Regions from separate parts of the Homo sapiens genome. Here all the other regions are linked to region 2. The links come from fine-mapping of genetic effects on gene expression. A gene starts in region 2. Each other region holds a variant in brackets. All regions are shown on one strand. Distances are from middle to middle.

What was found. PIP is the estimated chance that this variant, and not a neighbour inherited with it, causes the effect.
Region 1: its variant is the best candidate, but not a certain one, in a credible set for the expression of WDR26 in blood mononuclear cells (TOPMed, PIP 0.61).
Region 3: its variant is the best candidate, but not a certain one, in a credible set for the expression of WDR26 in whole blood (INTERVAL, PIP 0.65).

What each region holds. Positions count from the first base shown.
Region 1 is chr1:224,459,029-224,469,201 of GRCh38, forward strand. It overlaps a transcript of CNIH3 not described here. Among named protein-coding and RNA genes, the nearest start is that of WDR26, 29 kb to the left of the region's middle. The variant G/T (reference allele first, on the strand shown) is at 4,808.
Region 2 is chr1:224,432,908-224,442,101 of GRCh38, forward strand. WDR26 (WD repeat domain 26) reads right to left here and starts at 1,890. Exons shown (of 14, transcript NM_001379403.1): 1 at 777-1,890. The coding sequence starts at 1,498. It also overlaps a transcript of CNIH3 not described here. RefSeq lists a silencer at 1,869-2,268 and an enhancer at 2,609-2,798.
Region 3 is chr1:224,490,737-224,500,909 of GRCh38, forward strand. It overlaps a transcript of CNIH3 not described here. Among named protein-coding and RNA genes, the nearest start is that of WDR26, 61 kb to the left of the region's middle. RefSeq lists enhancers at 7,069-7,598, 7,324-7,523, 7,599-8,130, 9,506-10,006, 10,007-10,173. The variant G/A (reference allele first, on the strand shown) is at 4,388.

The DNA of each region.
Region 1 (10,173 bases), 27 kb after region 2:
CCTCCAAGGTGCCTAAATGCCATCCCAGGATTGGTTCCAGTGTCTATTATCTGTTTGACTCCAAATGGCCAAACACCTGACTTCCTCTCTGGTAGCCTGGCTTTTATCTTCTAGGACATCCAGGGCCCCTCTCTTTGCCTTCCCCTCTTTCTTCCTTCTACTGCTTAGATCAAGTCTTCAGCAGACATCATGTGACCTTGAGGATGGATGTCACATGCTGGAGGAAACAGAAGGCCGAAACCCTGATGACTTCACAGAGCTGCCAAAACAGTTCCTGACTGTTTATTCCGGGTCTTTAACAAAGTGATGAAAAGAAATCCTTGCAGTATGAAAACAACTTTTCTATTCCATGGAGCCAAACCTCATTATAACAGATAACGTGACCCTCAGCGATATCCCAAGTATTTTCCTGTTCTCATCTATACTATGGCAAAGGGGCAAATACCTCTCAGTAAAGAAAGAAATAACAACTTCTATCTTGGGCGAGGCATTTCTTCTGTTAGAACTTTGTACACGGAATAAAATAGATCTGTTTGTGCTTATCTTTCTCCTTAGAATTATTGAATTTGAAGTCTTTCCCAGGGTGGGGGTGGAGTGAAGCTGGGGTTTCATAAGCACATAGATAGTAGTGTCTCTTAGCTTCCGTTTAAATATGGGGGTAGCGATGTGGAGGGCCCAGAAGTATCAGAGAGGAGAGACAGGCTGCTCTGATTGCCTTTGTAAAATGCACATTTGAGCTTGTGCAAAGCCCTGGGCCTGAGCTCAGAAAAAGCAAGGCCAGGAATGAGGCTCTTGGTTCAGTTCCCCTGCACACCCTGGGCGGGGAGGGGTTGTTAGAGTCATGGAACCCCTATTTTTTTTTTTTTTTTGACCGGGTCTTGCTTGGTCACCCAGCCAGAGTGCAGAGGTATGTGCACAGCTCACTGCAGCCTCAACTTCCTGGGCTCAAGCGATCTTCCTGCCTCAGCCCCCAGAGTTGCTGGAGCTACAGCCCCATGCCACTACACCTGTCTAACTTTTGTACTTTTTGTAGAGACAGGGTTTTGTCATATCGCCCAGGCTGCTCTCGAACTCCTGAGCTTAAGACCAGGTTGCTCAAGTGATCCACCCACGTCGGCCTCCCAGGGTGCTAGGATTACAGGCATGATCTACCCCTCCTGGTTTATCTTTCTTAAGCTTGGAGTCATCTTTTTAAAACAGCCACAATGAGGTATAATTGATATACAATACACTGCTTATATTTAAAGTGGATAATTTGATAAGTTTTGCCATATGTTTACATCTGTGAAACTGTCACCACAATCAACAGGGGGATCATATCCATCACCCACAAAAGTTTTCTTAGGCCTCTTCCCCCTGAGAAAACCCTCTCTCTGGCAGCCACTGAACTGCTTTCTGTCCCTGCAGATTCGTTTGCATTTTCTTAAGTTTTATATAAATGGAATCATAGAGTACGTGCTCTTCTTTTGTCTGTCTTCTTTCACGCAGCATAATTATTTTTTAGATTCTTGTGTCTTGTGTGTGTCAATTCTTTTCTTTTTATTGATGAATAACATTCCATTGTATGGATATACCACATCTGTACAGTTTGTTTAATCCATTCACCTGTCGATGGACATTTGGATCACTTCCAATATTTGGCTATTAAAATAAAGCTACTCTGAACATTTGTGTATGTGCCTTTGTGTTATTCTTGGGTATATATCCAGCAGTAGAATGCTAGATCATGTGGTAGGTTTTTTGGGTTTTTTTTTTTTTAGATATGTGGTCTCATTTGGTCACCCAGGCTGGAGTGCAATTGCGTGACTATGGCTCACTATGGCCTTAAACTCCTGGGCACAAACAGTCCTCCCACCTCAGCCTCCTGAGTAGCTGTGAGTAGCCGGGATTATAGGCGAGAGCCACTGCATCCAGCCAGTTGTTTTTATTATGACTTTACCCTTAATTCATTGTATATTTTATTTAAATTTAATTTTTTCTTTTTTTTTTTTTGAGATGGAGTCTCACTCTGTCACCCAGCCTGGAGTGCAGTGGGGCGAGCTCAGCTCACTGCAACCTCCACCTCCTGGGTTCAAGAAATTCTTGTGCGTTGGCTTCCCGAGTAGCTGGGACTACAGGCGCCCACCACCACACCCAGCTAATTTTTATATTTTTAGTAGAGACGGGGTTTTTCCATGTTGGCCAAGCTGGTTTCGAACACGTGACCTCAAGTGACCCACCCACCTTTGCCTCCCAAAGTGCTTGGATTACAGGCATGAGCCACTGTGCCTGGCCTCCATTGTATATTTTAAACAAAGGATGTTTAATACAGACTTATTTTTGATGCATTATACATTTTAAACAACATGAGTTTATAGCCAGTATGGCTTTTACTCCCCTTTCTTTAAGGGGAGATAAGCATACCAGTATTCTATAGAATAGTATCAGCACACAAGGCACACTTGCTTCCCTTTGCTTACCTCTGATTTAAGATCATAACTAAAAGGAATTTATTGAACCTATGGACGTATGTATTTACTTCTGAGTATATATCTCTTCCTCACATGCATATACCTTACATAAATGATTTCTTCAGTTACCATAGTGATTTAAACAGTTTTAAAACATCTTTATTAAGATTTTAACATACTACAAAATTCACCCATTTAAAATGGACACAATTCATTGGTTTTTAGTAGATTAACAAAGTTGTGCAACAACCAGCACCACAATCTAAGTTTAGAATATTTCACCCCAAAAGAAAACCCATATCAATTAGCAGTCATTTCCCATTCTCTCCTCCATATGCCTCAGTTGTAGGCCACTAATCATGTACTTTCTTTTTCTATATATTTACTTATTCTGGACATATATAAATGGAGTCATACAGTATATAGTTTTTTGTGACTGGCTTCTTTCACTTAGCACAGTGTTTTCAATGTTCATCCACGTTGTAGCATTTATCAGTACTTCTTTCCTTTTTTTTAAAAAAAAGACTTTTACTTTTTAGAGCTGTTGTAGGTTCACAGCAAAATTGAGCTGAAAGTACAGGGTGTTCTCATATACACCCTGCCCTGCTCCATGTAAACCCTCCCCCATTATCACCATCCGCACCGTTGGTGTATTTGTTACCATCAATGAACCTACATTGACATCACTATCACTCAGTCCATAGTTTACAGTAGGGTTGGTTCACTCTTACCCTAATGTAGGGTTCATGTGGTGTCGTACATTCTATGGGTTTGGACAAACCTTTAATGATGACATGTATCCACCATCGTAGTGTTGTACAGAGTAGTTTCACTGCCCTAAAAATCCTGTTATGTTTAAATTTTTTTTGTTTTTTGAAACAGTCTTGCCCTGTCACCCAGGTTGGAGTGCAGTGGCCCCATCTTGGGTCACCGCAACTTCTGCCTCCCATGCTCAAGCGACTCTCCTGTCTCAGCCTCCTGAGTAGCTGGGATTACAGGCACCCACCACCACGCCTGGCTAATTTTTGTATTTTTAGTAGAGATGGGGTTTTGCCATGTTGGCCAGGCTGGTCTCGAAATCCTGGCCTCAAGCAATCCGCCCGCCTTGGCCTCCCAAAATGCTGGGATTACAGGTGTGAACCACTAGGTCTGGACCCAATTTTTTTTTTTTTTTTTTTTTGAGATAGGGTCTCATTCTGTCACCTGGCTGAAGGGTGGTGGTGTGATCACGGCTCACCAGAGCCTCGACCTCCCAGGCTCAGGTGATCCTCCCACCTCAGCCTCCTGAGTAGCTGGGTCTGCAGGCACGCACCACCACACCTGGCTAATTTTTTGTATTTTTATTGTAGACATGGGCTGGTCTCAAAACACCTAGGCTCAAGTGATATTCCTGCCTTGGTTTCCCAAAATATGTTTAACTTTTTTTTTTTTTTTTTTTTTTTTGAGACAGTCTTGCTCTGTCACCAGGCTGGAGTGCAGTGGCACAATCTTGGCTCACTGCAACCTGCACCTCCTGGGTTCAAGCAATTCTGCCTCAGCCTCCCGAGTAGCTGGGACTACAGGCGTGTGCCACCACACCCAGCTAATTTTTGTATTTTTAGTAGAGATGGGGTTTCATCATGTTGGCCAGGATGGTCTCGATCTCTTGACCTCGTGATCCACCCGCCTCGGCCTCCCAAAGTGTTGGGATTACAGGCGTGAGGCACTGTGCCTGGCCTGTTTAACTTTTTAAGAAGCTACCAAAATGTTTTACAAAGTGCTTGTACTGTTTTCCATTCCCAATGATGTGTGAGAGTCCGGTTTCTTCATATCCTTGCTGACTCTTGGGATGGTCAGTCTTTTGTTAAAATGTTTTGTTAAAAATCCTTTGGCCATTTAAAAAATTGTGTTGTTTTCTCGTTATTAATTTTTGGAGTTATTAGCATGAATACAAGTCTTTTTTTTTTTGAGGCGGAGCTTCACTCTTGTTGCCTAGGCTGGAGTGCAATCGCACGGTCTCTGCTCACAGCAACCTCTGCCTCCCAGGTTCAAGCGATGCTTTTGCCTCAGCCTCCCGAGTAGCTGGGGTTAGGCATGTGCCACCATGCCCGGCTAATTTTGTATTTTTTAATAGAAACGAGGTTTCTCCATGTTGGTTAGGCTGGTCTCGAACTCCCAACCTCAGATGATCCGCCTGCCTCAGCCTCCCAAAGTGCTGGGATTATTGGTGTGAGCCACCGTGCCCGGCCTGATACAAGTCTTTTATCAGATATGTGCTTTGTGATGATTTTTCTCCCAGCTTATGAATTGTCCTCATTTTTTTTTTTTTTTTTTTTTTTTTTTTTTTTTTTTAGAGGGAGTCTCGCTCTGTCGCCCAG[G/T]CTGGAGTGCAGTGGCATGATCTCAGTTTACTGCAACCTCTGCCTCCTGGGTTCAAGCCATTCTCCTGCCTCAGCCTCCCGAGTAGCTGGGACTACAGGCACATGCCACCACACCTGGCTAATTTTTGTGTTTTTAGTAGAGACGGGGTTTCACCATATTGGCCAGGCTTGTCTCGAACTCCCGATCTTGTGATCCGCCCACCTCAGCCTCCCAAAGTGCTGGGATTACAGGTGTGAGCCACCGCGCTCGACCTGGATTGTCTTCATTCTTTTCGGAGTATCTTTTGAAGAGCTTAACCTTTAAATTTTGATGGAGTTCACTTTATATTTATTTTTTATGGGTTATGCTCTTGGTGTCATGTCTAAGCAATCTTTGCCCCAAGGCCACAAAATTTTTCTCCAGTGTTTTCTTCTAGAAGTTTTATAGTTTTAGGTTATTCATTTAGGTCAATGCTCTATTTTGAATTGATTTTTTTTTTGAGATGGGGTCTCTATATGTTGCCCAGGCTGTTCTTAAATTCCTAGGCTCAAGGGATCCTCCTGCCTCAGCCTCCCAGGTAGCTGGGACTACAGGCATGTGCTACTGCACCCAGCTAGTTAGTTTAATTTTTGAATAGGTAATACTTTTCCGTGCCTGGCTTTAAGCTAATTTTTATGTATGGTGTGAGTTATGGATCAAAGTTCATTTCTTTCTTTTTTGCATGTGGATATCCAATTGTTCCAGAACTATTTCTTGAAAAAACTATCCTTTCTCCATTGGATTGCCTTGGCACCTTTGTAAAAAATTAGTTCTCCATTTATGTATGGATCTATTTCTGATTTCCATATTCTGTTCCATTTATCTATTTTCCTTATTTATACCAAACCACACTGTTTTGATTCCTGTAGCTTTTAAATAAATCTTGAAGTCAGGTAGCATAAGTCTTCCAGCTGTATTCTTCTTTTTTTTAAAGATTTTATTTCATTTTATTTTATTTAAAGACAGGGTCTTGCTCTATTGCCCAGGCTGAAGTGCAGTGGTGTGATCACAGCTCACTGCAGTCATTAATTCTTGGGCTCAAGTGATATTCTCACCTCAGCCTCCCGTGTAGCTGGGCCCACAGGTGTGTACCACTAGGCCCAGTTAATTTTTTGATTTTTTGTAGAAACAGTCTCACCATGTTGCCCAGGCTGGTCTGAAACTTCTGGACTTGAGCGACCCTCCCACTTTAGCCACCTAAAGTGCTGAGATTAGAGATGTAAGCTGAGGCACCCAGCCAAGATAGTTAGAATTATCTTTTTTTTTTTTTTTGAGACGGAGTTTCGCTCTTGTTGCCCAGGCTGGAGTGCAATGGCACAATCTTGGCTCACCGCAACCTCCACCTCCTGGATTCAAGCGATTCTCCTGCCTCAGCCTCCCAGGTAGCTGGGATTACAGGCATGCACCACCACACCTGACTGATTTTGTATTTTTAGTAGAGACGGGGTTTCTCCGTGTTGGTCAGGCTGGTCTCGAACTCCCGACCTCAGGTCATCTGCCCACCTTGGCCTCCCAAAGTGCTAGGATTACCGGTGTGACCCACCATGCCTGGCTGGTTAGAATTATCTTTAACTCATCACAGTCTACCTTCAAGTTATATTGTATCACTTCACACATAACATAAGTTTACAGGAGTCTACCTTTGTTTCCCTCCTCATAGCTTTTATGCTGTTGTTGTCATACGTTTTACTTACACATTTGTTATAAACCACAGTCTATACTATTATTTTTGCTTGAACAGCCAGTTTTCTTTTTTAGATGTTTTATTTTGAAATAATTATAAACGGGATATTGCAAATAAATGTATAGAAAGGTCCTGTGCATCCTTCACCCCTCCTCCCTCAATGTTGACATTTTGCATAACTACATACCGTATCAAAACCAGGAAATTGGGCGGGTGCTGTGGCTCACGCCTGTAACCACAGCACTTTGGGAGGCTGAGGCAGGCAGATCACCTGATGTCAGGAGTTTGAGACCAGCCTGGCCAACATAGTGAAACCCCATCTCCACTAAAAATACAAAAATGAGCCGGGCATGGTGTCGGGCACCTGTAATCTCAGCTACTCGGGAGGCTGAGGCAGGAGAATCGCTTGAGCCTGGGAGGCGGAGGTTGCAGTGAGCTGAGATCTCGCCATTGCACTCCAGCCTGGGTGATGAGAATGAAACTCCTTCTCAAAAAAACACAAAAAACGAAAAACAAAAACCCAGAAATTGGCATTAGTACAATCCACAGGGTTTAGTCAGATTTTACCAGTTACACATGCACTCATTTGTGTGTGTATGTAGTTCTATGCAGTTTTATCATACATGTAGCTTTGTGTAATTGCCACCACAATCAAGATACAGACCCATTTCATCACCATAAGCCTCCCTGATGCTTTTATAGTCACATCTACCTTCTTTCTCCCCAGTCCATAACCCCAGCAGCCATTCTTCTGTTCTCCATCTTTTAATATTGTTATTCAAATACATTACGTAAATGGAATCACTTATGTAGTGTCATACAGTCTGTAGCTTTTTAAAAAAATCAATCAGCATAATTCCCTTGAGAACCAGCCAAGGCCTAATTCTATCGTAGTTTTTTCCTTTATGTTGCAGAGTAGTATCTGTGGTATGGATGTACTACAGTTTCTTCAACCATTTATACATTGAAGGACATTTGGGTGGTATCTAGTTCTTGGCTATTATAAATAGAGTTGTTATCAACATTCATGTATAGATTGCAGAGCGCATATAGGTTTTCATTTGCCTGGGATAAATGCCCAAGGGTGCAATTGCTGGGTTGTATGGTAAGTGCACTTTTAGTTTTAAAAGAAAATGCCAAAATATTTTCCAGAGTAGCTATCCCATTCTACATTCCTGCCAGCCATGTAAGAGTGATCCAGTTTTTCCCATATCCTTGCCAGAATTTGACATTTTTTATTTTATCACTCTGTTAGGCATGTAGTGATAATGCATTGTGGTTTTAATTTAGATTGCCCTAATCACTGAGGTTGAACATCTTTTTATTAGCTTGTTACCTGTATCTACTCCTCAGTGAAATGTTTTTAGTACACTTGCTAATTATATTGTTTGCTTTTCTACTGTTGAGTTTTGGAAATTCTTTATATTCTAGATACTAAATCCTTTGTTGGATATTTGGCTTGCAAATATTTTCTCCCAGTCTGTAATTTATCTTTTCATTCTCTTGAGACAGGGTTTCACTCTGTTACCCATGCTGGAGTGCAGTGGTGTGATCATGGCTCATTGCAGCCTTGACCTCCTGGGCTCAAGTGATCATCCCACCCCAGCCTCTCACGTGGCTGGGACTACAGGTGTGTGCCACCATACCCAGCTAATTTTTTCTGTTTTTTGTAGAGACATTTCTTGAACTGCTGGAAATGTTGCTGAGGCTGATCTTGAACTGCTAGACTCAAGCCATCTGCCCACCTCTGCCTCCCAAAGTGCTGTGAATACAGGCGTGAGCCACTATGCCTGGCTCTTTTCATTCTCTTAACAGGAGCTTTCACAGAGCAAAATTTTCTAATTCTTAAGAGGTCCAATTTATCAAGTTTTCCTGGATCATAGTTTTTGTTTGTTTGTTTGTTTGTTTTTGTTTTGCTCTCATTGCCTAGGCTGGAGTGCAATAGTGCGATCTCAGCTCACTGCAACCTCTGCCTCCTGGGTTCAAGCAATTCTCCTGCCTCAGCCTCCTGAGTTGCTGGGATTACAGGCAGGTGCCACCAAGCCCGGCTAATTTTTGTATTTTTAGTAGAGACGGGGTTTCACCATATTGGCCAGGCTGGTCTCGAACTCCTGACCTCAGGTGATCCACTCACTTCGACCTCCCATATTGCTGGGATTACAGGCATGAGCCACTGCGCCTGGCTGGGATCATAGTTTTGATATCAAGTTGAAGTACTGTTCTCCCAGCCGTAGGTTTTGAAGATTTCCTCCTGTTTTTTTTTTTTCCAAAAGTTTCATAGTTTTACATGGTATGTTTAAATCAATGATTCATTTTAAGTTAATTTTTGTAAAAGGTATGAGGCTCTTCTTTTTTTTTCTTGGCCTACAGACTTTTTTTTTTTCTTCACCAATTGTTGAAAGGGCCGTCCTTCCTCTATTAAATCATGTTTGTACCTTTTTTCTTTAAAAAAATCAGTTGTACATTCTTTTGTGATTCTATTGTTTCCTCTATTATATTTCATTGATCTACATATTTATTCTTCCACCAGTACTCTACTGTCTTGATTACTGAAGTTATTTAGTAAGCCTTAACATTGGGTAGAATGATTCTTCTTACAACATTCTTCTTTTTCAAAATTGTCGTAACTATTTTAGGTCCTTTACCTTTCCATATAAATTTTAGAATAAGTTATTTATATCTATAAGAAGCCTTGCTGGAATTTGGATAGGAATTATGTAAATCAATTTGGGAAAAATTGATGTTTTTAGTGTTGAGTTTTCTAAGTCATAAACACAGTATTTCTATTTATTTAGGTCTTCTGTGATTTCTTTCATCAACATTTTGTAATTTTCAGCATACAGCTCTTATACATGTTTTGTTAGATTTATAACTAAGTATTTCATTTGCTTTGTAGCAATTGTAAATGGTATTGTGTTTTCAGCTTTGGTTTCTACATGTTTGTTGATTTTTGTGTGTTGATTCTGTGTCCAGTGACCTTCCTTATTAATTTTTAAAATTGCAGTTAAAAATAGATTTATTAGGATTTTCTGTGTAGATAATTGTCATCTACAAATAGGGACAATTTTATTTCTTTCTTTCCAATCTGTCTGCATTTATTGTTTTTCTTTCTTTATTGCATAGGCTAGAACTTTCAGTACTGTGTTGAATAAGAATGATGAGAGTACGTCTGTGGTAGGAGAAGGTGGGAGCATCACTTGAGGCCAGGAGTTAAAGGCTGCAGTGAACTATGATCATGCCACTGCCACTGCACTCCAGCCTGCGTGACAGAGTGAGACCCTGTCTCAAAAAAAAAAAAAAAAAAAGAAAGAATGGTGATGCCATGTTCCTGATATTAGGGGGAAAGCATTCAGTCTTTCAGTCTTTCACCACTAATTATGCTGTTACCTGTAGTTTTTTGGTAGATGCTCTCTATCAAGTTGAGTCAGTTCCTCTCTAATCCTAGTTTGTGAAACTTTTTTTTTTTTGTGCACGTGAATGGGAACTGGATTTTGTAAAATGCTTTTTCTATATCAATATGGTCATATGACTTTTCTTCTTTTTTATTTTATTTTATTTTTTAGACAGGGTCTTGTTCTGTCACTCAGGCTGGAGTTTAGTGGTGCAATCATGGCTCACTGCAGCCTTTACTTTCTGGCGTCAAGTGATCCTCCCACCTCAGCC
Region 2 (9,194 bases):
ACCTTCACCCTATGTTAGGTATACAAGGCCACCTAAATTGTATTTGAAAACAAATGGTTCACCAGATCAGATGTCCCCTTTTCAGAGGCGATCATCTTCTTGGTATTAAACTGAGATTTCAGACTAGTTAGGGTTAGGCCTCTTGTACACACACACAAGGGCCTTTAAACGACATCAACACTGTATCTTCATTATTCGCATCAGATTTATTCAACAACCTCTTTCCAAATGATCCCAGCCCCTCCGTTCCCATAAACACTTGTAGGTGATTGTCTTTCCTGATTGGTAGTTTGCTTGGGTTGTTGTCTGCCACGGTTGGGGGTGGGGAGGTGTCCCACAAAGATGCCTCCAAGATACACTTGAAAAACAAATCCTCCAAGGTTCATTATTTCCACCAGCTCTAATCCACCCCTCCCCCAACACATACAGAAACACACTCCCGCATCTGTCTTTATTGACAGACAATTAAGCTCTGAAGGTGCGTGGGGAGAAGTCATTCTTTGGGTTTCTCCTAACCCTTCCTAACCCCTCAACGCCTGTCTCGTCTCACAATTTGTCAGACTGATTGATTTTCCCCTATTTCCTTTCAGGTCCGCTCCTCCTCCCCGGTCGCCCTGAGCCGCGTCCTCCTGTGTACTGGGTCCTGCGTGCCCAGCACTCATTCTCTTTGACCGAGCTCTTTCAAGCCCCCCTCCCCCCTCCGCCCCTTCCCCTACCCCCCTGGAGCCTCCGTCCCTCGGTCTGTCCATCACCAGCTGGCGGTAAGGGATACTTACTTGAGCCCTAAGCCATTCAAGTGCTGTCCTATTAGCCTAATGACATCCTCATCTGACTGGGAGAGCCGCTTCTTCTTCTTGAGGCTGCTGCCCAGTTCTGGGGTGGCCAAGGAAGAGGAGGCGGCGGTGGTGGCGGAGGCAGCTGCGACGGTGGCTGAGGATGCGGCGGCCGCCCCGCCGGGAACCCCGTTATTGACATTCAGGCTGTTGCTATTGTTGCTGGCGGCGGAGGGGGCGGAAGGCAGGAGCCCATTGGCGTGGGCCAGGTCCCCCGCGGACGACGACGACGAGGGGGACGACTCCCCGTTCTGGGCCGACAAGCAGGCGAGTTCCGGGGTCTGTCCCTGGCCCCCGCCGCCCCCTCCTCCTCCACCGCCGCCGCCGCCACCTCCTCCTCCTCCTCCTGCCCCATTGGCCTGCATGATGCTGCCGCTGACCAGGCTGTGGCCGCTACTTCGGTGGGGGACAGCAGCGGCGGCGGGAGGGGCAGCAGCCGGGGGAAGTCCCACCACTACCACCACGGAGGAGGAGGAGGAGGAGGAGGACGAGGACGACGAGGACGGAGGGGAGAGGCCTGCTCTGCCTGCCGAAGCCCCGGGCTCTCCTACTCCCTCCGCCGCCGAGGCTCGGGGTTTCTTCCGCGGGGGCGGGGAGGCTCCGCCGGTGTCCGAGTCGGAGGAGGAGGAAGCGGAGGCCAGAGTTTCCTCGCCGAGAGAGGCCGTGGTGGGAAGCCGGTGGGGCGAGGCGGGGGAGGGGAGGCGGGGGCCGGGGAGAGGGTCGGGGTGAGGGGGGCCGGGGAGGCGGGGAGGGGGTCAGGGTAGGAGGGTGAGGGTGAGGGTGAGAGGAGGGGGAGGAGGAGGAGGGGGAGAAGGAGGATCCGGGCCCTTTCCCCCCCCCCTCCCGGAGGCAGCTCGGGGTGCGCGGCCCGGGGGTCGCGCCGGGGGGCGCCGCGGGGCGGCTGCGGGGGCGCGGGGCCCGCCGCTGGGCTGAGCCCCGGCAGTGGCTGCGGCGGCGGCGGCGGCGGGCGGCAGCGGAGGCAGCTGCCGCCTCTGTCCTCGGATCCGCTCCGCTCTGCTCCCTGGTGTGTTGATTCTTCCCCCAGCTGCTGCCTAATGGAGTCCAGGCGCTCGCGTCACAGGAAATGCCTATACTGCCCTCCTCACTCACTTCCGGTGGCAGGTATGGAACCTATAGGGGGCCTGTCACCCAGCACGTGCATCGGGGGCTGTCCCGGGGGTCAGGGGAGGGAGGCCAGCGGGCCGGCGGGGTCCGCCCCGACCCCATCCACGACCCCGACTCCTATCCGATCCTATCCCCGGCCCCGCTCGGGCCTTTCCCCTTGCGCCCTGGCTCGGCTGGCTCGACGAGCAGTAAGTTCGTAGCCGCCCTCCGAAGCCGGGCGTGCATGGGATGGCAGAGTTGGCGTGCGTGCGTGAGTCCACCAGTGTGGCATGGGCATGTAAGGTGCGCGGAGGGACTGCACCTTCTCCATCAGGTGCAGAAGGTGAGGATGGGGCAGGGGGCTAGGAGCTTCGACAGGCAGGAACTTCCAGGCACAGGGCTGTGGTAGGCCCCTCTCAATGGTAACCAGGACCGAAATCGGGTTTCACAACCTACTTGTTTTAGGGTGGAAAAACTTGAATTTCCACAGCCAAGTGCCACACAGTTGCTGTACCCGGGGCCATCCCGGGAGCTGTGAGATAATGAGCCGGTGAGACTCTGCTCCACCCTGGGAAGGGGAGTTAGTCTAGAGGAGCATATCTTATGGGGACAAGAAGTCACAAAAAGGCTGTGTGGTGTGTAGAGAAGGGGAGGGACTCTGCTGTTGAGGCTTCACTCTTTTTTAGCACTTGCCCAGCACCTCCTTCTCTCTTCCAGCTGCCTCTTGAGTCACTGCCCAGTTTAGGGAGCAGTAACATAAACCAAACAGTTGCCTCCAAAATATGCATTCTGAGAAGGATTCAGGCACCCATTCAGATCCAGGCTTGAAATTTTTACGTGGCATGTGAGCCTTCTGTGTCATCATGACTTACCAATTTATGTGAATGTAGAAATGCAGCAACAAAGACTGGGCTGAATCTTAATCATTGGCAAATGGTGTGCATTATCCCCAAACAATTATTTTCATGTATGTGGTTGATAGCATCTATACTCAATATGTATAAAGATTTTCTCAGAAATTTAAAGTCTTTCTCTGAAGTAGTTTTCCTGTGGGGAGGGGAAAAAAAACACCTTAGTTTCTAATTAATACATCATACATCGCTGATATTTATTATAGTAATAACTGAAAGTAATTTTGAGGCCTTTGGAGACAGTTGTTTTTAAATTTGGAAATACAATAAAAAATGATGCTGATGAGAAATTAGTAAAGAATCCTGAGGTTTATGGATCCTCAGACAGGAAGAAGTAAGAGGAAGGTCAATGCAGGATCTTACAGGGATTTGGTTTTGTAGTTCTTACTGCTTAAATTTGCTTCCAGGTGGCAGCTGTAATTGCAAGGTGACTCACATACAGTGTTTATATTCACCTGAGGCCGACCTGAGTTCTAGTTGAGGTTCATAGAGCTCTGTCACTGTATCCAGCAGAGCCTGAATTACTAGATAGTTAACACCCTCAGAGAGCCCTGTTTGTATATTAACTTTAGACAACCTTATTATTAAAAGTGTTGTTTAGGCAAAATTTAATTTTTGCAAAATGGTTTATAATAATTTATTAGGCCCATAGCAACATTGAAGACTTGCTTCTGAATAAAGACTGTAGGTTTTATAAAGGAAATCAGTCACTTCATGGCAGCTACAGACAAAGCTCACACTTCATTAACAAAAGTAAAATGATGAAAAATAAATTGGATTCCATTGCTATCTAAACTCTATATTCCAGTTTTTCTAATTTTTAGGTAACCAACACTGCTCGTGTTAGAATTCTGAATTTATAAAGTCCCTTACAGAACATTTTTCTCTGTACTAAAACACAGCTTGAGAATCTGTTATCTGAACTCTGGGTCTTTAGGTCTTTCTAAAGCCAAGTTTCAGGTCTATGTGCAGATGAACAATTCTGAAATACCACTCTACACACTGAGGAACCTTCAGTAACACCACATTACCTACAGAATAAAATCCAAATTCTGTCTTGCTCACCACAGGTTGCTTTCAGTCTTTCTTTTTGGCTTCATCTCTTATTGCTCCTCTTCAGGGACCTGTCTACTGTCCGCCAAATGTACTGGCTCATTTCTCCTTGAGAGTCTTTGACTACACTCTCCCGTCTTTTCTTCACCTGTCTGATGCCAGTCAGTCTTTCAAGACTCAGCTCATTTCAAACCTCCTCAGGGGAGCCTTTCCTGACTTCCACTCTCCTAGCCGTCATTGTGGGTGTCATTTATTAGGCTCCTCAATCACGAAGGCTGCTTGTGATGTAACTTGCTAAGACCCCTTCTTCAGGTCATCAGAGAGAAGGCTTTCTAGACCTCTGTCCCCCTGATTTACCTTCCCCTTTTCACCCTCCTCCTAAAAAGGACTAAGATGGGTTTAGGAACAAAGGTCCAAGTTATCTTTTAGAAAAAAGAAATCAAGTGTGTATTTTGATACTTGATTCATTTGTATTTGCTTCTGTACTGTTTTAAATAGAGACCTGTTAAAAACGGGTCTCTATTTGACCCATCTTGTGTTAGGTTCCAAATAAGAGGTAACTTCTTGTCCTTGAAATAGCAAACAAGCCTTTTTCACATTTCTCACCTTTTTTCAGGGATGCTGTAGAATCAAATATCGAGTAGGTAGTGGAACTAATTGACCTCCAGGCCTTTCCAACTGTAAGAGGTCTGTGAACTGTATGAGACTCCCAACTAATGTATAAATTCCTTGAGGGCACGATCTGTGTATTGTTCATATAAGCCAGTATTTTTCAGCTTTTGGGTTGTGACCCATTTGTAAGTCATGGAATCCATTTAGTGGGCCATAATTTGTATTTTTAAAAATAAGGTGGCAAAGTATAAAAGCATAGAAGATATCCAAGTGAATCACTCAAAAGAGGGGTGATTATTATTTTGTGAAATTTTTGTTTCAATGACAGACACATGTCTATGCTTTACAAAGTAAAATATATTTCTTCTGTAGGCCATTGTCAAAAAAGTTTGAAAAACGTTCCTATAAGCCAGTCCAGACTAGACTAGAAGGCAACTCAAGAAATAGGTGTTGGATATATAATTAACAAATCACTAGTACTGCCCACGGCAACTATTTTTTTTTTTTTTGGAGACAGAGTTTCGCTCTGTCGCCCAGGCTGGAGTGCAGTGGCGCGATCTTGGCTCACTGCAAGCTCCGCCTCCTGGGTTCACGCCATTCTCCTGCTTCAGCCTCCCGAGTAGCTGGGACTACAGGCAACCACCACCACACCCGGCTAATTTTTTGTATTATTATTATTATTTTTAGTAGAGACGGGGTTTCACCGTGTTAGCCAAGATGGTCTCGATCTCCTGACCTCGTGATCTGCCCACCTCAGCCTCCCAAAATGCTGGGATTACAGGTGTGAGCCACCATGCTGGCCTTTTTTTTTTTTTTAAATACAGACACAGTCTCATTATGTTGCCCAGGCTGGTCTCAAACTCTTGAGCTCGAGCAATCCTCCCGTCTTGGCCTCCCAAAGTGTTAGGATTACAGGTGTGAGCTACCACTCCTGACCCCAAGACAATATCTTAACTGTAAAAATTAAACTCTACCATATTTTAAAAAGCTGAGATAGTATAAATGTTTATAATAAAACATAAAACCAACATTTCTCACAAGTCTTTGTAACTAGTAGAGACTGTAGTTGTTCTGTCCAGATATAAGTGTGGTATATCAACTTGGCACTTAGCAACATTGATATTTAATTTGTTAAATTTTTGTTAGGAAGAGGTGTTTTCAGATCTCAGGTGTCTTTGGGAAGGAATATTTTTATATTTATATCTCCAGCTTCATTCCTAGCTTTTCTTTGGAACACTAAAATTGTCCAGCTGGACTTGTTGGGCCTGGGTGGGATTGGGAGAATTCAGGAGAGCACAGTTCTTGGGCCAGAACAGTTGGTCAGCTGATTGACTCTAGGCAAGTCATTTAACTTTCGCAGCCCCTCAGGCATGTCATGTTTAAGTGGGGATAATGACATTGGCATACCTGCTTGCTAGAGTTAATGTGTGGGTCATGAGATAACGAATATAACAAATATTTGGAAAAGTACTATGTTGAAATATTTTAAAATAAAATTTAAATCCCTCTTCATTTAGAAAGGATTTGAGGCAGCTAAATGCAGAGGTGTAAGATGGTTTTTTGGTTAGGATTGTTTCTGAGCTGTGACTCTGTAGTCACTTTCTTACTCAGCCCTGCCACTCAGCTGTATTCCTCTGTAGCTCTGGGCAGACGACTCTGAACACGGCTTCATATTGGCCTTCCATGAGTGGGTGAAGGGCATAGTCATCTGGCAGTTTTACCTGCTGTTCTATGCATGTCTCTCCAGCGCTTGCTTATTTTCCCCTTCTGCAAACATTCCATTCATGCCATGGGCATTCAGTACAGTCCTGTAAGCAAGGGTAGGGGCGGCACACCAGGTGGATTTAAGCGCAAAGACAGGACGACTGCTTTGCCACAGGCGCCTTTACAGCCAGCAGTGAACAGTTAGACATATTCACCTTCCTCTAGGTGGAAAACAGTCCTCTTCTCAGTAGCCCTCTCATGTTCTTGAGACCCATTTGATATAAATAACAATGTTGCAGGAAATTTCCTGAAGGAACTGAAATGAACCATAGAAACGAGATCATTCTTTTCCTACCACACAGCTGGGATTAGACTGCTTAGTTTGTACTTGCAGCACTTTTGCAGTATGGGCCGTATTAAAAAAAAAAAACATTTAACACTCAGCTATGGGTACAAAGATAGTCACTGAAACATTATTATTTACTTTTATTTATATATTTATTTTTGAGATGGAGTCTCGCTCTGTCGCCAGGCTGGAGTGCAGTGGCGCAATCTCGGCTCACTGCAACCTCAGCCTCCCAGGTTCAAGTGATTCTCCTACCTCAGCCTCCCGAGTAGCTGGGACTACAGGCGTGCACCACCATCCCCAGGTAATTTTGGTTTTTGTTTTGTTTTGTTTTTTGAGATGGGGTCTCGCTCTGTCGCCCAGGCTGGAGTGCAGTGGCGCAATCTCGGCTCACTGCAAGCTCCGCCTCCTGGGTTCATGCCATTCTCCTGCCTCAGCCTCCAGAGTAGCTGGGACTACAGGCACCCACCACCACACCCGGCTAATTTTTTGTATTTTTAGTAGAGGCGGGGTTTCACCGTGTTAACCAGGATGGTCTCGATCTCCTGACCTCGTGATCTGCCCGCCTCGGCCTCCCAAAGTGTTGGGATTACAGGCGTGAGCCACTGCGCCCAGCCAATTTTGGTATTTTTAGTAGAGATGGGGTTTCACCATGTTGACCAGGATGGTCTCGATCTCTTGACCTCATGGTCCGCCTGCCTCGGCGTCCCAAAGTGCTGGGATTACAGGCATGGGCCACTGCACCTGGCTGCATTATTATTATTATTATTTTATTTTGAGTTAGGGTCTTGCTCTGTTGTCCAGGCTGGAGTACAGTGGTGCAGTCATAGCTCACTGCAGCCTCAACCTCCAAAGTTCAAGTGGTCTTTCTGCCCCAGCCTCTTGAGTAGCTGGAACTACAGGTGCACACCACCTGGCTAATTTTTTATTTTTTGTCTAGAGGCAGGGTCACCCTATGTTGCCAAGGCTGATCTTAACTCCTGGGCTCAAGCAATCCTCCTGCCTTTTCCTCCCAAAGTTCTGGGATTACAGACATGAGCAACTGCTTCTGGCCTGAAGCATTAAGAGCAAAAAGAAAGTGGTAATCACCATGTACTGATATGGATATAGTACCAAGATATGTTATTAAGTGAATAATGCATGTTACAAAACAGTGTGCATAATATGATGCATTTTGATAAATAAATTTATGTATATATGCACATATTGTTTTCTCTGGTAGGAAAGAAAAGCATAAACAGGGTTTCTCTTTGATGGATGGAGTGGGGTAGTGAGGGGAGAAGTTCTTATTTTTCCATTTAATACTACTCCTTGGTGTTTGAATTTTACAGCTGTATACAGTATTAAGTTTTTTTTTTTTTTTTGAGACGGAGTCTCGCTCTGTCACCCAGGCTGGAGTGCAGTGGCACGATCTCGGCTCACTGCAAGCTCTGCCTCCCGGGTTCACACCATTCTCCTGCCTCAGCCTCCCGAGTAGCTGGGACTACAGGCGTCCGCCACCATGCCCGGCTAATTTTTTGTATTTTTAGTAGAGACAGGGTTTCACCGTGTTAGCCAGGATGGTCTCAATCTCCTGACCTCATGATCCGCCCCCCTCGGCCTCCCAAAGTGTTAGGATTACAGGCGTGAGCCACCGTGCCCGGCCAGTATGAAGTATTTTTAAAAAGTGCCAAGGGGTTATTTGGGTTGTGAGATTGTATATAATTTTTCTTTCTTTTTTATTAATGTTATGCTTCTAAAGCACACGTTTTTAAAAGAACACTCAAAAAACATCAAAATGTTCATAATAAAAACATGCCAGATAAGGCAATGTTATTAAGTATATTTGACAGTAAGTATTTGTTTTTCTAAATCTCCTTCTCATTACCCATACCTCTTATATTCTCACACTGCCATCTCTGCACACACCCACCCCATCTCTCATTTGGTTAAGTTCTTCTGGGGAATAAAGGGCAAAAAGGCATTCCTATTTATTAACTTTGAAAAGTAGATAAATAATTAATAGCCCCAGGAGTCCCTGCATAGACTCTAACAACAGGCCCTTTGGGCAGTCTTCCTTCTTCTCAGTTTCGAATGTGTTGTTCATCCCTCTGACATTATGATAATCACAATAATCAATGGTAAAACACAATTATGACTGTTAACAACAAATTCTAATTATCATAAGAAAATGTTTCTGAATATGTGTATGCATCCCCTGTAGATGTAATGGACCAATAACTAGGCATTTAAAACAGAAAAATTTTAAAGACTGTAGTAGATTATTCATAAAGTTTAAAAACTTATTGAAGGGATCTCGAGGCTTCTTCAGTTAATTGTTATTTTTTAAAATTATGCTCTTTACTAAATAATACTAAATGTATAGGCAAACATGAAATATTATAATAGCCTAAATTTTAAAAAATTTATTGAATGAAAGACCATGAATGTCAGTCATTAACAACAAAAAGCAAAACAATAACTCTTAGCTTCTTGTGGCTAGTGGAGGGGTGCTTAGCCAACTCAGGACTAACAGAGTTTGGGAGATTTATTGATTCCCTTAATTTTTTTTTTTTTTTTTTTTTTTGAGACAGGGTCTTCCTTCATTGCTCAGGCAGGAGTGCAGTGGCACGATCATGGCTCACTGCACCC
Region 3 (10,173 bases), 58 kb after region 2:
AAAAGAGAAACTTCAGCGGAATTAAATTTAAAGGAGTTTAACTGAGCAATGAATGATTTGCGAATCGGGCAGCTCCCAGAATCACAGCAGGTTCAGAGAGACTCCAGGGATGCCTCATGGTCAGAACAAATTTAAGACAAAAAAAAGAGAAATGACATACAGAAATTGGCAGTGAAGTACAGAAACAGCTGGATTGGCTATGGGTTGGCATTTGCCTTATTTGAACACAGTTTAAACACTTAGCAGTCTATGAGTGGTTGAAGTATGGCCACTGGGATTGGCCAAGACTCAGCTATTGTTACAGGCGCATACTCCTAAGTTAGGTTCTCAATCTTGTCTGCCTATTACAAGGTTACAGTTTGTCCACAAGTACTCAAATATAGAAATACGGAGTCCTTCTCAGGCCATATTTAGTTTGCTTTAACAGGCCCTTATTAGTGTATTTACTGAGCTGAGGAACAAAAACCATCCAGTTTGCTTCTATGAGGTTTCGTTTGTCTGAGACCCCTCCAAATTAGTCATTTTCCTAACTTGCTAGGCAATTCTTTACTATCTGTAAAGCTGATATTCCATAAACCACAGAATAAGTTCCAGGGCAGTTTTCTGGGAATGGTGTGCTGGAACCGGCTCATACTGGCTTGCAAGAACTGATTGTTAAATTTGTAGGAATTTTGTAAGCTGCTTGTTAAACATGGCCATTATGAGAAACTAAACTTTATGATATACAATTAAATAAATTATGTTTAAAACAATGGCAATAAATACTCAAAACTTATCTCTTACTAATTATTGTATGGCAGTTTATTTTTATCTATGCTCTTAAGCTTATTTGCATCTATTAAATAAATTCATTTATTTACTTTATTTTTTATTTATTTATTTTTTTTGAGACAGAGTCTCACTCTGTCACCCAGGCTGGAGTGCAGTGGCACAATCTCAGCTCACTGCAACCTCTGCCTCCCGGGTTCAAGCAATTCTCCTGCCTCAGCCTCCCAAGTAGCAGGGAACTACAGGTGCCAACCATCATGCCTGGCTAATTTTTGTATTTTTTAGTAGAGATGGGGTTTCACCATGTTGCCCAGACTGGTCTCGAACTCCTGACCTCAAGTGACTCTCCCACCTCGGCCTCCCAGAGTACTGGGATTATAGGCATGAGCCACTGCACCTGGCCCATTTATTTACTTTATTTTTATTTTTGTAGAGACAAGATCTTGCTATATTGCCCAGAGACTGTTCTTGAACTCCTGGCCTCAAATGATCCTCTTATCTTGGCCTCTCAAAGTGCTGGGACTGTGGGCATGAGCTGCTGTGCCTGGCCTCTCTGCATCTATTGCATTTATTTATTTAATGATTCTTCATCATTCAACTTGAATATTGCATCTTTATGGTGGAAATACTTTATAATGGTGTGCCATTTCATGTCTTCTCAACTCCACATTCAGTGATGTCATGTTAACATTGGCCATGACAGGAATATTTATGCCACAGAAATTGGCAAATGCAACAACACAGTGTGTTTTTTTCCTTTGCAGAGCTGGTTGTTAAACACTTACCGACACATTACTGTGTGTAGGCATTCCTCCCCAACCTGTAAAGCATAGTTCTTGTTCCTTAAAAGTGGCTTGTCATATCTAATTAAATGAGATTTGGGTCTTGGTTATTGTTGCAAATTTGATTTATTCAGTTTAATCTTACAGGAAAGAGGATGGATTTTTATTGAGCCTAAGTAAATAACCTACATGACGTAAAGGTGAAGGAACTGAATAAAAGCACTTTGAATAATATTTAACCATTGTTGCCATGGTTTTGGGTAGTTTATAGATAAAATCTATTAATATATTCTACATAATCATTATTGTTTGAAGTTTTTCCTTTCAATTTTCTAGTTTAACATATATACAAAGAATTTTAATAAGAAGATTTTATTTTGCTGATCTTGGGGTAGACAGTCTGCTTTCTTGAAGTCATCTCTTTCTGTGCTAGACATCCTGGAAGGCCTGAGTCCCCAGTATAGAGTCACAGGTGTCTGTGGTAATAACATCAGCTCCTGCTCAAAAGCCTGTGCTCCGAGTCTACCTGTTACAGTTTTTATTGCATATTTTTTTGACGTTTCTTCAAAAAGTTCCCATTTTATTTCTGAGTTTGTAACAGAGGCTTTTAGGCAAGTATGAGAGAAAAGCAGGCACCATCTGTTGATAGTAAGACTGAATGACTTTGGCTATTTTACTATAATCACCAACAATATCAGAATGGAGGACAGTGATCCATGGAATCCATTTATAAGGATTGAGTCAACGATTTCCCTGGAGAGTGAGGGCATTGACCCAGGGTCTTTAATCATCCCTTGAAATCTTGTTTTATTTGTCACCAGTTGACAAAGGTACTTTAAGCCTAGAAACAAAATTTTCCTTCTTTTTATTTTTTGTTTTTTAAAGAAATCCATTTGTTGGAAGTTATTTGGCTAGTCTTTGTATATAAACTTGATATGGTGGGTAAGTAGGGTAGGTGACTGATTCGTGTAATATATATGCGGAAATTTTAAATTTGCAGAACATAAAGGAAGTTTGCAAGTCATTTTTTGGCTTTTAAAGTTGTCTTTAGCAAACCAAAAGGTCAGGGAAACCTACCTGGGGCGCTGAACGTTTGTGTGTGTGTGTTAATAGGTGTGTTTATGATGTTTTGGGAGTGGGGTAGGGAGACCTAGTGTGCTTCTTTAAATGTAGTTTCAACCTACCCCGAGGGCTCAAGGAAGGGGTGTGATTGCTGTTAGCAAAAATTATGAAAAGTAAACACCTGGGAGTGGCAGAGAGGGGAGCAGGTGGTTTCCAGTACAGAACAAAGCACAAAGTTGAGACGTCCCAATGAGTTGCAAGGTTTATCAAAGTGACTTGTTTCAGTTACAGTAAAAAGTATTGGAATTTGGGGATGATTTGCTTTTACCATATCTTGTAGATAATTCAGGTCACTCTCATTCAGTGGTACTCCCAAAAGCACATGGGAGAAACAAAGGTAGGAATCAAGCTGTTTGTGTAGGTTGGAGGTGAGAAGAATGGCAGGGGAGAGAGTGCGATTCCTTTCTCCTCTCACGCACCTGGAGGAGACTCAATAATTTCCTCTCCAGTCTGCAAAGGACAGCCCAGAGTCCCGTCATTAACACCACTTTGTGCTTATCACTGCCACAGAACCAATCGGGTATGTAAATTTGCTGCAGTACTGCAGCATTTTAACTGACAATACACTTGAAGGTATTGATCTGATGAGAAAGGACAATGGAAGATCAGATGTGGTTCTTCAAATTAACTGCAAAATCAGTAATAATGTCTTTCAGTCTTTTAGCCTTAAAAGCCACCAGGGTCGATTTTTAAATATGTCTTATCACAGATGTCAGGTCAAAAGCTGTGGTAATATAATTTCTGAATATTTTATCAGCAGTGTTGGTATTTCACATCCCTTATTGATAAAATTGACTAAAGGAACCTTGAAACATTAGATCTTGTATAATTTTCATACAGGATTTCAGAAATCACAGAGCCTCTCAACGTGCTATCTAGTCCAAGGGAGTAGAATTAACTAATTCTGCTCACATCTTTCTCAGCATGCTGGGTCCTCTTGATTTATCCCTGTGTCCTTCTAATGCTCTCAGACCAGTAGGCCCAGAGAATGTATGTCAGGCAGAAACCAGTGCTACATCTTGTGTTCCCCCTCAGCCTACATCTTGGAAGCAGGGAGGGGAGGATGATAGAGGAGACCAGAAGAAGTAACTGATTTATCAAGCCTGCTGCCTGACAGTCCTGATTTTTGAGTTCACATTCCTGCCAAATCTTTGCTTGTGGCTGAAGCCGTGTGATAACCAGCTTGATGGTACTAAATACTGGTTTCTGTAGTTTAACTTCTATGGTTCTTTCGGGGTTCCTTTTGCAGCCACTTTATCTTAAAGACCTCTTTGGGATTCTGCCCTAATCAAAACTGAATTCCAACTTCCACAGCTCCAATAACAGGTGGCCCAGGTCAGGGCCTGGTAAAGAGAGTATTTTTGAGCCCTGAGGTGCCCACCAGATTGATTCTGAACTGGACTCATGCCCAACGCCCTCTGGATCTTTGTCTCACAAAATCAGATTATTACACTAAAGTCTCTCAGATGTTTTTGGAGGGTTGTTTTGAAAGTGGCTTGCTTTCTTCTGCCCTCTCTGCCTACCTCCACTTTCCCCTATTCAGGGGCTGCGCCTGAGCCCCCCAAGCTGCTCCTTACCTGAATCTGGAGTACAGGACAAATACACACACATGTACTCATACACGCATGCACACATGCACACACACACACTCTCTACCAGTTCATGCCTTAGAGGCCTATCAGAACTGCCCCATAGTGAGAGTAGTTCCCGTGGTA[G/A]GCAGGGGAGACCTTCCTGAGACCCCTACCTGAGACTCATCAATTTTTTGGCTGTTCAATGAGCCTCCTCATGTAAGGACTTGAGACTACCTCACACAATGAGCCCAGTCCTGATCCCAGCCCCCTTCTCTCCCATGCCAAGGTATTGTCCTTCCTATGGCAGAAGGAGAGGGTCCCAGGACATGCCTTGTATATACCTTGAGTTTTGTCAATCCAATATGATTTTTTACTACAAGATCAATGGGAAGGTCTTGTATCCTTAACTACTTAAAAATTGGACTTGTTTCCTTCCTGGAAAAAAACGATGAATTCATTCGTTCATCAAATATTTATTGCCCTGCTAGGTGTCAGGCTAGGTGCTGGGGATACAAAGCTGAGCCAAAATAGTCTCTACTTTAATGGAGTGTTTGTGTAGCTGGGCATCAATATGAATGAATCACTCCATAGATGCAGTCTTACAGCAGTGGTGTCACAAAGACGCTGATGCAGCTGTGAGGGCTTAGAGGAGAGGATTTTACTGCTCCAAGGGGTCCTCCTGGAGGAAGTGATGCTGAGCTGAGATCCCAGGAGGAATGGGCATTCACCAGGGGAAGGGCATTTGCTATTGGAGAGAAGTGGCTGGAGGAGGGGGTCGGGGAGCAGCAGTCCATGTGCAAACTCTCTGGGCAAGAGGAGCGGGCTGAGTGTGGGCATCATGGCTCACTCCTATAATCCCATCACTTTGGGAGACTGAGGCAAGAGGAACCCTTGAGGCCAAGAGTTTGAGATCAGCCTGTGAACACAGTGAGACCCCATCTCTGCAAAACACAACAATGAAAAAGGCATCTGTGAGCTATCCGTGGGCAGAGAGAGCGCAACTAAGCAGTAAGATATGCTCTTTTCATGTGGAGTGAAACATAATCTGGGAAGTGAAAAATTATTCAAGATCTCATGTAGTGGCAGAGACTCAGCCCCTTGTCCTCCCAGCTGCACGAGTCTGTTGTCTCAGCCTCTCTGCCAGCCCAGCAGTTACTGAACAACTACATGTCGTTCTCAATACCCTAGAACTTCTGCTTCCTCAGGGCTGCTGCTTGCTGCCTCCTCTCTTGTGTCTCTTGGCTTATACCAACCACCATCCACTCGAGGAGGGTCTAATTGATCCATTCCTGCCTGAGGAGACTGTGGGGAGAACTTCCATGTCTGAGCACTTTCTGTGCTGCTGGCTGTCCCGTGGGCAGATGTCAACTCCAGTCCATTCAGCTCTGGCCCACCTAACTAGTGTTGCTGATGACACCCCTTCTGCTACCACCATCGCTCCTGCTGCTGCTGGGGCCTCCATGTTAGCCTGATACTAGGAGAGCAAGAAACTGAAGCCTCCTGATTTTCTCTTCCAGGTGGTATAGCAGTATGAGCACAGGCCAAGCAAGGCTGGCCTTGAGATGAGGAGGCCAGATGGTCCCTGAATCAGGGTGGTTTCAGCATGCCCAGGAAGGTGCTGCTGCTTCACAGACAGGTAGCGACTTATACTTAAGAAATTGTTTACAGTGAACAGGATGGGTCCCTTCCCTCAAAGAGCACTCCATGCAGTTGTGGAAACAGACTCAGTGTGACGGGTACAATACTACAGGTGGCATAGGATATCATGGTGGGAATACTGCAAATCCTTATTGAAAACAGGCATATTATAAATACCTTGTAATGAATGCAATACCATAGCTGATACTCATTTCTTTTAGACTTACCTATGTTTTCAGATATATAAAAACTCTAGGAATTCCCAAGGTAATTGAAAACATATGTCCACACAAAAACTTGTACAATAATGTTCATAGCAGCGTTATTCACAATAGCTGAAAGGGGGAAGCAACTCAAGTGTTCTTTGATGGATGAATGGATAAACAAAATGTGGTATATCCATACAATGGAATATTATGCAGCCATAAAAAGGAATGAAGTACTATTATATGCTACAACATGGATGACTCTTGAAAACATGCAGTGAAAGAAGCCAGTCACAAAAAAACTACATTTTATGATTCCATTAATATGAAATGTTCAAATAGGCAAATCTATAGAGACAGAAAGTAGAGGAGTGGTTGTCAGGGAGAGAGGCATAGGGAGGAATTGGGAGTGACTGCTAATAGGTACAAGATTTCTTCCTGGGGTGATGAAAATGTTCTAGAATTAGCTAGTGGTGATGTTTGCACAACATAGTGAATATACTAAAAACCACTGAACTGTATACTTTAACAAATGATAGATTTTATGTTTACTTTAAAAAATGATAGATTTTATGTTATGTGAATGATATGTTGATTTTTAAAGTCTAGGAATTAATCAATTATACTGTGATGGAATATGATATTTTAAGTCAGAAATTTACTTGTGGCATCATCTTCACTGTTCATCTGTAGAATCAGGAGAAGTGATGTTTCCTAGGTTGCTGTGAAGATTAGATAAGATAATGCATATGACAGACTTAGCTGCAAGAATATGGGTTGGGAACCCTTTGTTGTTATAGATGCATTTCTAAAGCAACTTTTTTTATGTGTTGCTGTTTGTTGGAGCCCTCCAGGAGGATCTTGGCACTGAGAGAAATCCCTAAACTAGAGTCATGGCTGAAGAGTGCTGAACACTTCCTGCACTGCTGGCTGTATGGTGGTCAGATGCTCCTGACTATGACCCTGCAGTGAAGCCCGGATCTGGGCAAAACTGAGAAGTAGTTGACACTTGCATCTCTTTCCTGACTGTCTTTTCTGGCCTGGTAGTCTTTTGGGTTATAATTCAGCATCTCTTCCATCTGCATGTCTCAAGTGATTAGTATTTTCCAAAGTGAGCTCATCACATTAATCATATTAGGGTATGAGCAGCCCTTTTAAGCTGTATTTGTATCTTACAGGAAGACCAGAAAAGCTCAGAAGGAGGAAGAATCTTCAGGCACTGTGCAAAGGGAGGGCAGGGAGAGGGGGAAGTTATTCTGCAGCAGCAGTGCCTTCCTGGGCATCCTGAAACCACCCTGATTCAGGGCCCATCTGGCCTCCTCATCTCAAGGCCAGTCTTGCTTGGCCTGTGCTCACTGCTGCCACTGCAATGCCATCTGGAAGAGAAAATCAGGACAATGGCTTCAGTTTCTTGCTCTCTTAGGATTAGGCTAACATGGAGGCCCCAGCAGCCCCAGCAAAAGCAGCAGTGATGGTGGTGGCGGTAGGGGTGTCATTAGCAACACTAATGAATCACTGCTGGGCCCGGTTCTCTTCTCTGACTCAGCTTGAAACTTCTTTCAGTTAACAGGAAGCCAGTAACCAGTAAAGTCAAAAGCTTATATGCAACTCTCTGGATTGGAAACCACTGGGGTGTTTTTTAAGCTTCTATTTCTAAAATAAGAAGGGAAACCAATGGACAGAAGCTTCCCTGTCTTCTTTGATGCAGATAAACTATGTTGGTAGAGGGTGATTGTGAGCTGGGGCCCTTGTTTCTTATGAAACTAAAAAATTCTACATGAGTTTACAAAAACAGGAAGCTGGCAGTGAAAGCTATTGGAATTATGTAAATGAAACAGTCAGTTTGGAATGCAGGTGGGAGTGTGCCTGTGGGAAAGAATGGAGAATGCATCAGAACACGGGCAGCCAGGTTACCATGCGCTGCTTCAGCACAGGGGAAGATGCGGGGGGCAAGGAACCTTCACTGCCCTGGCGTCATCAGCCCAGTGCTGCAACAGTGCAGCAGAAAGGGCAGCGGGGAAAGGCGACAGGAAGAGGAATCAAGACACTTACATTGCTCTAGGAGAGATTCGCATTTTTTTGTGGATCTGAGGATGGGAGCTCTGGGAGCTCTGGAGCCTCTTCCTGTCCGCAGGCACTGCAAAGCTTTAGCACACCAGTAGCTCCCCAGAGGGCTGGGAACCCATGCCAGGACTGGCACCCGCTCCGGGAAGGGGTGCTGGGAGTGCCATGATTTAGATCAGTGATTCACAAACTTTTGGTAGTGAAGACACTCCGTTAAAGCTTATTGTTTTGGGGTTGTATCCTACTCCCCGCCTTTTAAAAATGTTAGTTAAAAATTTAAATTAAAATGGACTTTGTTTTAAAATTAAAAATTTCCTGTTGTTTGAAGCTTCTATGACAACTGGGTAGCCTTCTGAGGTATTGTAATACAGTATTAGGATTTGGACTCTCTGCTGTATACACTAAGCTCTTAAGGGTGAAGGGCAGGCCATTGGTTCTGATAAGAAGAGAGGTTGCCATAGGTATCTCTGCTTTCTTACTCTTCCCCACTCCAGGCCATGTGGACATCTGGAGATATTTGATAAAATGTCCTTTACCAGCCGAGACTCATGACTAATCAATCGTTGTTTTTGTTGGTTTGCTTCTAATCCCTCTCCCTTCCAGTCTATCTTTCATCCTGCCATCAATTTCCTAAAACAGATTTGATGTGCCACCTCCCTCCTCAACAGTTTTCAATGGGATTTCCTACTGCCTGCATAAAGTCTAATGCCTTAGAATGGGGCAAGGAAAGCCTTTCATGATTTAACCCTCTAATACCTTTCTAGTTTCAATTTTTTATAACTCTCTATTTCGGGTCATTTTTTGAACATCAAGAAACTGAAAAGCATAGCTCAACTGCCTTATACAATACACGCCGTTATTTGCTTCTGGGACAAAAGAAGTCTAGAGTCAGCTGACTGGGCACTGTGGCTCACACCTGTAATCCCAGCACTTTGGGAGGCTGAGGCAGGAGGATCGCTTGAGGCCAGGAGTTCAAGACCAGCCTGGGCAACATAGCGACATCCTATCTCTACCAAAAAAAAAAAAAGAAAAAAGAAAAGAAAAAGAAATCTAGTGTCAGAGTGGGGCTTTGGGTAAGGCTCAACAATTCCCCAAGGATCTAATTCCTTTCTTTCTTTTTTCTTTTTTCTTTTTGAGACAGGATCTTACTGTGTCTCCTAGGCTGAAGTGTAGTGGCACAATCATGGCTCACTGTAGCCTTGACCTCCTGGGCTCAAGTGATCCTCCCACCTCAGCCTCCTTAGTAGCTGGGACTACAGGCCTGCACCATCAAGCCTGACTAATTAAAACAATTTTTTTTTTTTATAGAGATAGTGTCTCCTTATGTTGCTCAGACTGGTCTCTTGAACTCCTGGTCTCAAGTCATCCTCCCACCTCAGCCTCCCAAAGTGCTGTGATTACAAACTGAGCCACTGTGCCTGGCCACAATTTCTTCCTAATTCTCATGGTCCCAAAATGGTTGCCAGCAGCCTTCATCTCATGTCTCTAAAGAAAGAATGACTTGGCTGGTGCAACAGTTCATGCCTGTAATCCCAGCACTTTGGGAGGCCGAGGCAGGCAGATAGCTTGAACTCAGGAGTTGGAAACCAGCCTGGCCAACATGACGAAACTCTATCTCTACCAAAAATACAAAAACTTAGTCAGGCTTGGTGGCATGCATCTGTGGTCCCAGCTGCTTGGGAGGCTGAGGAGGGAGGATGGCTTGAACTCAGGGGGCGGAGGTTGCAGTGAGGCGAGATTGTGCCACTGCACTCCAACCTGCTGGGCGACAGAGTGAGACAAAAAAGCAAAGAAAAAAAAAAAAGAATGACTTTTCCCCAGCATTCATGACTGATCTTTAATCTGAGTAGACTTGTTTCTGACGTACATCTGCCCCTGCACCAACCCCAGTCGCCAGTGGGCTGGGATGTGCTGAGTGGCTACCTGCTGCACGATTTCCCTTGACCTCAAGACTCCCCACAATGCAGTGGATGCCTAAGTGGACAATGAGGCTGCTAGGATGGAAGAAGGGGGGCTGGAACC